Linked DNA regions of Homo sapiens. The protein of the gene in region 1 interacts with the protein of each later gene in a biochemical or structural test. Each region holds a gene or a part of one and is shown in the gene's direction. Other genes may lie near its edges.

Region 1 (5,097 bases):
AAGAACCACTGGTCTAGGCCAAGCGGTGGCTCATGCCTGTCATTCCAGCACTTTGGGAGGCTGAGTTGGGTGGATCACTTGAGGTCAGGCGTTCGAGACCAGCCTGGCCAACATAGTGAAACCCCATCTCTACTAAAGATACAATGAAACCCCATCTCTACTAAAGATACAAAAATGAACCGGGTCATGGTGGTGGGTGCCTGTGATCCCAGCTACTCGGGAGGTTGAGGCAGGAGAATCTCTTGAACCCGAGAGGCTCAGGTTGCAGTGAACCGAGATTGTGCCACTGCACTCCAGCCTGGGCAACACAGTGAGACTCTGTCTCCAAAAAAAAAAAAAAGAACTGCTGGTCTAATGGACTGAACAAGAACACTCCAGAAATTGGGGGGGCCCACAGCTGGAAGGCTTTCCTTCTCAGTCTTTTTTTGTTATATGCCCCTTATGATGCTTTCCTTTCCCTTTGGAGATCTGGCAGGCAGGTCCTGAGCAAGGAGTGGGGCCCCTCCCTGCTCAGCTCAGACTGGTCTTCACAGTCCCCATTCCCTGTGCCCTGTACTGTTACCTTTCCATTTTTAGCTTAAATGAGACCAAAACAGTCTGGCTGTAGCAGCTTCTGTTGAAAGCTGATGTCTGGCATGCAGCGAGCCAGCCCCCTCTGTCTGCCTGGTATATTTAACCCCCTACCCCTGACACACCTGACTTCCCTCCTGGTACCCCTGACACACAAGGCCCCTAATGTACACAGGGGCTTCCCATCCCAGGGAAATGACAACCGTATGCCCACCGCGCCCCCACTCTCTGGGCGTCGATGATGCAGGGAGGGCATGTCACAAGATGGGGCTCCCTGCGTGGCCAGGAAGGGTGGGTATCAAAGGCTCTGAGGTGTGCAGGGAGGAGCCTGGTGGAGTGGAAAGCAGCTCTGGAGTCAGGCAGCCATAGGCTTTCATCTGGGTCTGCCTCTCTGGACGCATGGCCTGCCAAACCTCCGTGACCTGTTTCTTTACCTTGATACAGCCTTTCAACAACCTTGCGAGGTCATTTTGAGAATTAAATGAGTTTCTTTGCAATTATACATGTGGTTCCCAGAACAGCACATGGCCCCACAGGTGATGAAAGGTACCTGTGATATCACGGGTCTTACTGGACGCCCACCCAAGATGTGTAGCGTCAAACTAGCATAAAACAGCAGATGTATCTCTGTCCAGTGGCACCATGTCCAGATGTTTGTGTGGGACAGGAGTTGCTGGCAGGTGCAGATGGCTCCTGAGCTACCAACCCGCCTTCAGGCTGACACCTGCCGGCCTCTCATCCCCCATGAACTCACTTCTCTTCCTCTTCATCCATGTCAGCCTCAGGAGAAGCTAGGCTTGCAGAAGGCTGCAGTTCCTGAGTGGGGCCATAGACCCTTGCCTCTGTGGCTCTGCCTATTCCCAAGGTGGTGGCAAATGACACCTGCTCCCTGGGCAGGGGAAGCACAGCCCGGGCGGCAGCTTAGCAGGGACAGTGTGGCGGCTGGGCCTTCCTGGTGTCTTCATTTCCCTGTGCAGCCCCACCATTCCCCCTTCTGGACCCTCGCGGACCCCATTTGTACCTCTCTGTCCCCCACCCCCTCCCATCCCCATTCTGCCTCTCTCTTCTCTTTCTCGGGCCCAGAGAGAGGTCTGAGTGGCAGTGAAGGTTCCGGCGTTTCAAGAGCTGCTCTTGTTCCTCTTGCTCTCGGTGGCGCAAGGTGAAGTCCTTATGATGTCCCGGGGTGACCGGGGAAGGAAGGCCCTGCTCATATCCGCCAGCATTCTAGTTCCTGCTGTGCTTGGTGGAAACCAGACAGACCGAAGCAGTCGGCTATAGTCGAGGTTTCTGGGAAACTTACTCACTTTGTAGGAAGTCATTTCCCTCTCTGGGTCTGTTTCCTTATCTGTAAAGTTAGGGGGTTGCCTGGGGGGAATCTGGGGTTCTTTCCTGGTGGTCCCATGCTGCCTTAGCCACCCTCACCATCCTGCCCAGGGCTGGTGTGTGTGGTGGAGGCGGCACATGTGCCTCGGAGAAGGCAGGCAGGAACTGCGGTCCCAGCCACGTGGGCTGCTCGGGGGCGTCCCGCGCAGGAGGCGGCTCCAAGGACCCACCCAACCCTCATGCCCACCTCCAACCTTCACTCTCTTCTCCGTAGGACACTCCCAGTTGCCGGGATGACCTGCTGAGTGACTACTTCCGAAAGGCCAGCGATCCCCCAGCCATCGGAGGCCAACCAGGACCACCTGCCAAGAAAGAAGGGGCCAAGATGCCCACCAACTTTGTGGCCCCCACCGTCAAAATGGCCGCCCCCACCTCGGAGGGGAGGCCGCTGAAGCCCGGGCAGTACGTAAAGCCAAACTTCAGACTGACTGAGGCCGAGGCCCCACCCAGCGTGGCCCCGAGACAGGCCCAGCCTCCCCAGAGCCTGTCTCTGGGCAGACCCCGGCAGGCTCCGGTGCCCCCAGCTTCCCATGCACCTGCCAGCCGCAGTGCCTCCTTGAGCCGGGCCTTCAGCCTGGCCTCAGCTGACCTTCTCCGGGCCAGCGGGCCAGAGGCCTGCAAACAGGAGTCCCCTCAGAAGCTGGGGGCTCCTGAGGCCTTAGGGGGCAGAGAGACAGGCAGCCACACCCTGCAAAGCCCCGCACCCCCCAGCTCCCATAGCCTGGCCCGGGAGCGGACCCCACTTGTGGGAAAGGCTGGCAGCTCCTGTCAGGGCCCAGGTCCCCGCAGCCGGCCGCTGGACACGAGGCGCTTCTCCCTGGCTCCCCCAAAGGAGGAGAGGCTGGCCCCCCTGCATCAGTCTGCCACAGCCCCCGCCATTGCCACTGCAGGTGCTGGTGCTGCTGCTGCTGGCAGTGGCAGCAACTCCCAGCTCCTGCACTTCTCACCTGCTGCAGCCCCGGCTGCCAGGACCAAGCCCAAGGCGCCCCCACGCTCAGGGGAGGTGGCCACCATCACCCCTGTCCGGGCAGGGCTCAGCCTCTCAGAGGGAGACGGGGTCCCGGGGCAGGGCTGCAGTGAGGGGCTTCCGGCCAAGAGCCCAGGTCGGTCTCCCGATTTGGCTCCCCACCTCGGCCGGGCCCTGGAGGACTGCAGTCGAGGGAGCGTCTCAAAGAGCAGTCCGGCCTCCCCGGAGCCCGGCGGGGATCCGCAGACCGTGTGGTATGAGTACGGCTGTGTGTGACTGTCTCGTGGTTGAGCTCGCAAACCTGAAAACTACTGACGCGCCTTCCGACTCTCACGGCCTTTTCTCTTGCTTGCCTGCGGTGCCAGGAGAGGGTTTGGAATGAGGAAAGGGGTTCCCACGCATTTCTGCTGTTTGTTCTGTGAATGGAAACACTGTGCCAAGCCCCAAGAGGATTACGCTTCCAGGTGTGTAACGTGTTTTCTGTGTCTGCCGCTTCCAGCAGCTGATATCTTTGGAACAAATAATCCACGTCAGCATGGGGACCAATTAGGATGCAATGACAAACTGACTTCCCCCAAAGCAGACACTACTCCAGTATGTCCCAGTAGAACACTCATTTGCAATGTGTTGAGCTCCGTTAAGCACACACACACTCACACAACAGGCTTACGAGGCTCAGGCCTGGCGGGTCAGAAAGCCCACTCCCTCTCCCAAGGCCACTGGATCCCAGGAGAAGCCCAGACTGGCGATACTACAAAGGTCTCCAGGGCCTGGCAGACCCCAGAGTCAGGCCTGCTGTTAAAAAGTGAGAGTGCTGCTGTTCCATTCCTGGGGTCCCAAGCACTTCCCTTTACCCCAGGACCCAGGGCAGCCTGCAGGGCAGCTGGCGGTGGCCTTGGCCATTTGCCCCCAGCCTCCAGCTGGCTCCTGAGCTCTGCACCAGGGGGTTTGGGGACCACACAGGCACCTGCCTTCCTAGATTTCCCTGGCTCACTTTTCTGCAAACACTGGATCTGCCAGGCCTGGGGATTGGGGGGCAGGAAAGAGGCCCCCATCCAGCCCCCTCCAGGCCAGTGTGCACAGTGCACCGAGGGGTCATCCGCACAGAGCGAGGTGCAAGCTCGATGTGTAACCTGGCTGCGGCACCCGACATCCCCGGTCTCGGGGTGTTGATTTATTTCTGAATAACTTTTTGGGTATAGAAACCAATTTTTTTTAATATATGACATGTATATGTACACACTCATGTGAAATATGTATACTTTGGGGGGATCTATTTATGTTCCAGTGGGAGTCACTCTCTTCTGTCGGGAATCTTATCTGCTGCTTTGTGTCTTTGGTCAGATTCCTGACAATTTAGTTTCCTGTTGTAAAGGTGCTTTTCCTGGGGTGAACTAAACCTATTGATTTTTTTTTTTTAAGATTTTTTTTTCCTTTTGATTTAATATACTGAGAAAGAAATGGGAGACTTTTGAATGTTAACAAGATCCATTTTAGGAGTGTTTGGGGTTGTGTATTAAATAGCCATTCATTCTGGAACTCAAGGACAGGACTGTAATAAAATGGAATGGAACCGAAGTGCGTTCTGGCTTTCCTCACTGCACATTGTTAGCATCGGGTGGGCCCCTGGGGACTTGGGGCTCCCTGCGCCCCTCCTTATGCACCCCTCCCTCTGCTCCCCTTCCTCTGTGCCCCTGCACCCCTCCCTCTGCGCCCCTCCACCCCTCCCTCTGCGCCCCTCCCTGTGCCCCTCCCTCTGCACCCCTACCCCTGCGCCCCTCCACCCCCCTGCGCCCCTCCACCCCCCTGCGCCCCTCCACCCCCCCTCTGCGCCCCTCCCTCTGCACCCCTCCCTCTGCACCGCTCCCTCTGTGCCCCTCCCTCTGCGCCCCTCCACCCCTCCCTCTGCGCCCCTCCCTCTGCGCCCCTCCACCCCTCCCTCTGTGCCCCTCCCTCTGCACCCCTCCCCCTGCACCCCTCCCTCTGCATGCCGGCGACCCTTCCTCCACAGTTGGAATCCACCACTTTCCTTGCCACTAGGTGGGGGAAGCTGTTACACGTGCAACCAGAGACAGATGTGAAGGACAAAGATTTCCTGTACGGTGACAGCTTTCCACCCCTCCTCAGGTGTGTTTAAGTTGGCATCAATTGAATCCTATTTTATTTGTTTTTCTAAT
Region 2 (4,568 bases), on another chromosome or scaffold:
TGTTTTGAGCCTCCTTGCCCTCATCCTTTGATTCTTGCCTTAATTTCTTGCCAGTTTACTATTTATACTGACAAAAGCAACTTAGAGTGTATACACAAAAGATTTTATAAAATCAGTTTATGTCCTAGTATTTATAATCCCAGATTTTATAATATAAACCATAGAATTTTCAACTTTAGTGACTAAGGATTTTTGGCAAAAGATATGTGATATCCTTTATATCCTCTACTTTATAGCCACACTTCTAATTTGAGTAAATCCTCTCCTTCAATTTTCTTATAGTCCAATCAGTGAAAGTCGAAGAGTACTACAGGAATCATGTGAGTTTTTCTTAAAGCACAATTCTAAAGTTAAACACAAAAAGAAGCACTATAAACCAAGTTCACACAAGCTGAAGGTCATTTCCAAATCCATGGGAACCAGCACAGGAGCTACAGCAAATCATGGCACTTCTGCAGTAGCAATTACTAGCCATGATTACCTAGGACAAGAAACTTTGACAGAAATCCAAACCTCACCAGAAACATCAATGAGAGAGGTGAAAGCGGACGGAGCTAGCACCCCCAGGTTAAGAGAACAGGACTGTGGTGAACCTGCCTCGCCAGCAGCATCCATCTCCAGACTCTCTGGGGAACAGGTCGACGGGAAGGGCCAGGCAGGCAGTGTATCTGAAAGTGCGCGGAGTGAAGGAAGGTGAGATTTGATTTTATGTAAAATCATCACTATTTTAAATACTGCATTACACATTTTTTATTAAAGCATAACACATTTGGAAAGCATTTTGTGATATATTATGTCTGTACTCTTACCCCAAGGAAGTTTGGGTTCAGCCTATAAATATGCTATTTAGTAGTTTAATTCTTAGCTTTGAGAACAGCTTTAATATAGGTGGTTCAAGTAGGAATGTTCATTTCTGTGGCAATTGTTAAGAGTTCCTTGTACATTTAAGTAAATGCAATTTACCCAAAATACAGGCTAAGTTTTAATTAATACTACATTATAATTCTGTCTAAAAAGTGTCACCTTATACAAAATTATAATGTGTCATTTTATCTAAAATTATTTTATTTTCTGAACATGAAAAGATATTGACATTATCTTTAATGAATTTTCTCAAATGGCCATAGGTGACCAAAACACAGGTAAGCCAGAATGCAGACAGCTAATTGCATTAAGATCTCAAGGTTATCTTACCTAGTCCTCTCAGACTAGGCTAAATGCACCTTCTCTGTGATCCTATGGCAGCTTTCATATATTTGGATTGTAATTAGATACATGCTTTATCTTCTCGTAGATTTGTAACCTTCTCAATGGGAGAGCTAAAGTCTTACTCATCTTTATGTTCCCAGTTTCTTACATGGTACTGATCCATGGTGGGAAATCAATAAAACATTTGTTAAACTGAGGACAGGAATCCTGCCTTATTCTATTCCCCACAAGATTCCATGTTCAGCCCTATATATATAAGTAGTGCTTGATGAAGTTTCTGAAGTAAGTGAAAATTATATTTTAAACAATTATTTGGCCAGGCACGGTGGCTCACGCCTGTAATCCCAGCACTTTGGGAGGCCAAGGTGGGCAGATCACAAGGTCAGGAGATCGAGACCATTCTGGCTAACATGGTGAAACCCCATCTCTACTGAAAATACAAAAAATTAGCCGGGTGTGGTGGCACCCACCTGTAGTCCCAGCTACTCGGGAGGCTGAGGCAGGAGAATCGCTTGAACCCAAGAGGTGGAGGTTGCAGTGAGCTGAGATCACGCTATTATTGCACTCCAGCCTAGCAACAGAGTGAGACTCTGTCTCAAAAAAAAAATTTGTATTTTGAAGTGTTAAAGTACACCTGAAGACTGTTAGCTATTTATTCTCTGATAAAGGTGGACACTGGTTAGGGGTGAAACTCATGAAAAATGGCATCATATTTGTGTTTGTGGATGTGTGTGTGTCAACTTTTTTTCTTTTATCTAGGATTAGTCCAAAGAGTGATATTACTGACACTGGCCTGGCACAGAGCAACAATTTGCAGGTCCCCAGTTCTTCAGAACCAAGCAGCCTCAAAGGTTCCACATCTCTGCTTGTTCACCCGGTTTCAGGAGTGAGAAAAGAGCAGGGAGGTGGTTGTCATTCAGATACTTGAAGAACATTTTCTCTCGTTACTCAGAAGCAAATTTGTGTTACACTGGAAGTGACCTATGCACTGTTTTGTAAGAATCACTGTTACATTCTTCTTTTGCACTTAAAGTTGCATTGCCTACTGTTATACTGGAAAAAATAGAGTTCAAGAATAATATGACTCATTTCACACAAAGGTTAATGACAACAATATACCTGAAAACAGAAAATGTGCAGGTTAATAATATTTTTTTAATAGTGTGGGAGGACAGAGTTAGAGGAATCTTCCTTTTCTATTTATGAAGATTCTACTCTTGGTAAGAGTATTTTAAGATGTACTATGCTATTTTACTTTTTTGATATAAAATCAAGATATTTCTTTGCTGAAGTATTTAAATCTTATCCTTGTATCTTTTTATACATATTTGAAAATAAGCTTATATGTATTTGAACTTTTTTGAAATCCTATTCAAGTATTTTTATCATGCTATTGTGATATTTTAGCACTTTGGTAGCTTTTACACTGAATTTCTAAGAAAATTGTAAAATAGTCTTCTTTTATACTGTAAAAAAAGATATACCAAAAAGTCTTATAATAGGAATTTAACTTTAAAAACCCACTTATTGATACCTTACCATCTAAAATGTGTGATTTTTATAGTCTCGTTTTAGGAATTTCACAGATCTAAATTATGTAACTGAAATAAGGTGCTTACTCAAAGAGTGTCCACTATTGATTGTATTATGCTGCTCACTGATCCTTCTGCATATTTAAAATAAAATGTCCTAAAGGGTTAGTAGACAAAATGTTAGTCTTTTGTATATTAGGCCAAGTGCAATTGACTTCCCTTTTTTAATGTTTCATGACCACCCATTGATTGTATTATAACCACTTACAGTTGCTTATATTTTTTGTTTTAACTTTTGTTTTTTAACATTTAGAATATTACATTTTGTATTATACAGTACCTTTCTCAGACATTTTGTAGAATTCATTTCGGCAGCTCACTAGGATTTTGCTGAACATTAAAAAGTGTGATAGCGATATTAGTGCCAATCAAATGGAAAAAAGGTAGTTTTAATAAACAAGACACAACGTTTTTATACAACATACTTTAAAATATTAAGGAGTTTTCTTAATTTTGTTTCCTATTAAGTATTATTCTTTGGGCAAGATTTTCTGATGCTTTTGATTTTCTCTCAATTTAGCATTTGCTTTTGGTTTTTTTCTCTATTTAGCATTCTGTTAAGGCACAAAAACTATGTACTGTATGGGAAATGTTGTAAATATTACCTTTTCCACATTTTAAACAGACAACTTTGAATACAAAAACTTTGTTTTGTGTGATCTTTTCATTAATAAAATTATCTTTGTATAAGAATTATGGAGTATTCTGTGGTTAGGTATAGTAGTTCTGGCCAAGGAAGTAGTATAATTTTTTAGATTAGTGACTCCATGGCTGGTAAGTCAGAGGCTTCTTTTTAACCTTGAAGGAGAATGCAGTCAAGATTCTTGCTTTTTGTCACTATTTCTTTCCAAAAATGTAAATTATAAAGCTATATTAACTGTAACTTTTTAAAGCCAGTGGGAAAGATCTGGAGTGTGAGGGGTGAAGCAAAAGGAACCCAGGACCCAGTTTTCACTCCTAACAGTGTATTAGGTGATACAGACAAACCTCCCAAAACAGAAGGCTAGAATATGTGGATGAAATAAAACAATAGGCAGATTTCTGTGATGGGGGAAAAAAAGAAATAAAATAATATTAACCCCAAACATTAAAAAACTAATAAGATAGTGAGGAATTGCCAGGTTAAGATCTGGGAGAAGAGAGAAATTCTCACTACAAAGCCCAACATTTGGAGCTGTTTTGCCCAGGAGCACTTGATGACTTGGAAAGGGCAGCTGAGAAGTGGAACAGTGCTATTGACAGCCTCAAAGGGCTGGAAGACAAGGGGTCTGCAACCACCCTACATTTAGAATTGTGACCTCAGAGGGTTGGATCTTAAAAGTACATGTGAGTTGTACATAAAGCAGCCCTGCTTCAAGTTGTCTGGGTAGATAGAAAAAGTTCAAACCCTGAAATTAGATTAAGGTAGCTCAAGCACCAGGTAAATGAAAATCTTCTCTGGAGGAAGAAAATGTTATTTTATATACTCTAAAAGTACCACAGTGCTCATCATACAATCAAACAATCAGGTATGCAAAAAAGACCATTTTTTGTTCATTAAAACATGAACAAGAATTGGCACAAGCAAGAGAAAAAGATCCCCAGGTACTGCTGATGTATTACTAGATACACATCATGTAACTTAAAAGTACAAGCAAGGAAAACAATAAGATACTACACACCTATAAGAATGGACAGCACATAGTGACTTCCTTCCAAAGAATCCAAAGTACAGGTGGTACAGGGAGAGTAGCATTTACAGTGGAGAAACCTGACAAACTCAGCGAG

Evidence for each region.
Region 2: the proteins of CCDC88C (region 1) and FZD6 form a complex in vitro, tested with the Homo sapiens proteins (one study listed by BioGRID).

What each region holds. Positions count from the first base shown.
Region 1 is NC_000014.9:91,270,724-91,275,820, reverse strand, and holds the end of CCDC88C (protein Daple), read left to right. Parts: intron 1-2,167; coding exon 2,168-3,196; 3' UTR 3,197-4,498; downstream 4,499-5,097. UniProt on the Homo sapiens protein: Required for activation of guanine nucleotide-binding proteins (G-proteins) during non-canonical Wnt signaling. Binds to ligand-activated Wnt receptor FZD7, displacing DVL1 from the FZD7 receptor and leading to inhibition of canonical Wnt signaling.
Region 2 is NC_000008.11:103,329,373-103,333,940, forward strand, and holds the end of FZD6 (frizzled-6 isoform a precursor), read left to right. Parts: intron 1-282; coding exon 283-693; intron 694-1,968; coding exon 1,969-2,137; 3' UTR 2,138-3,494; downstream 3,495-4,568. UniProt on the Homo sapiens protein: Receptor for Wnt proteins.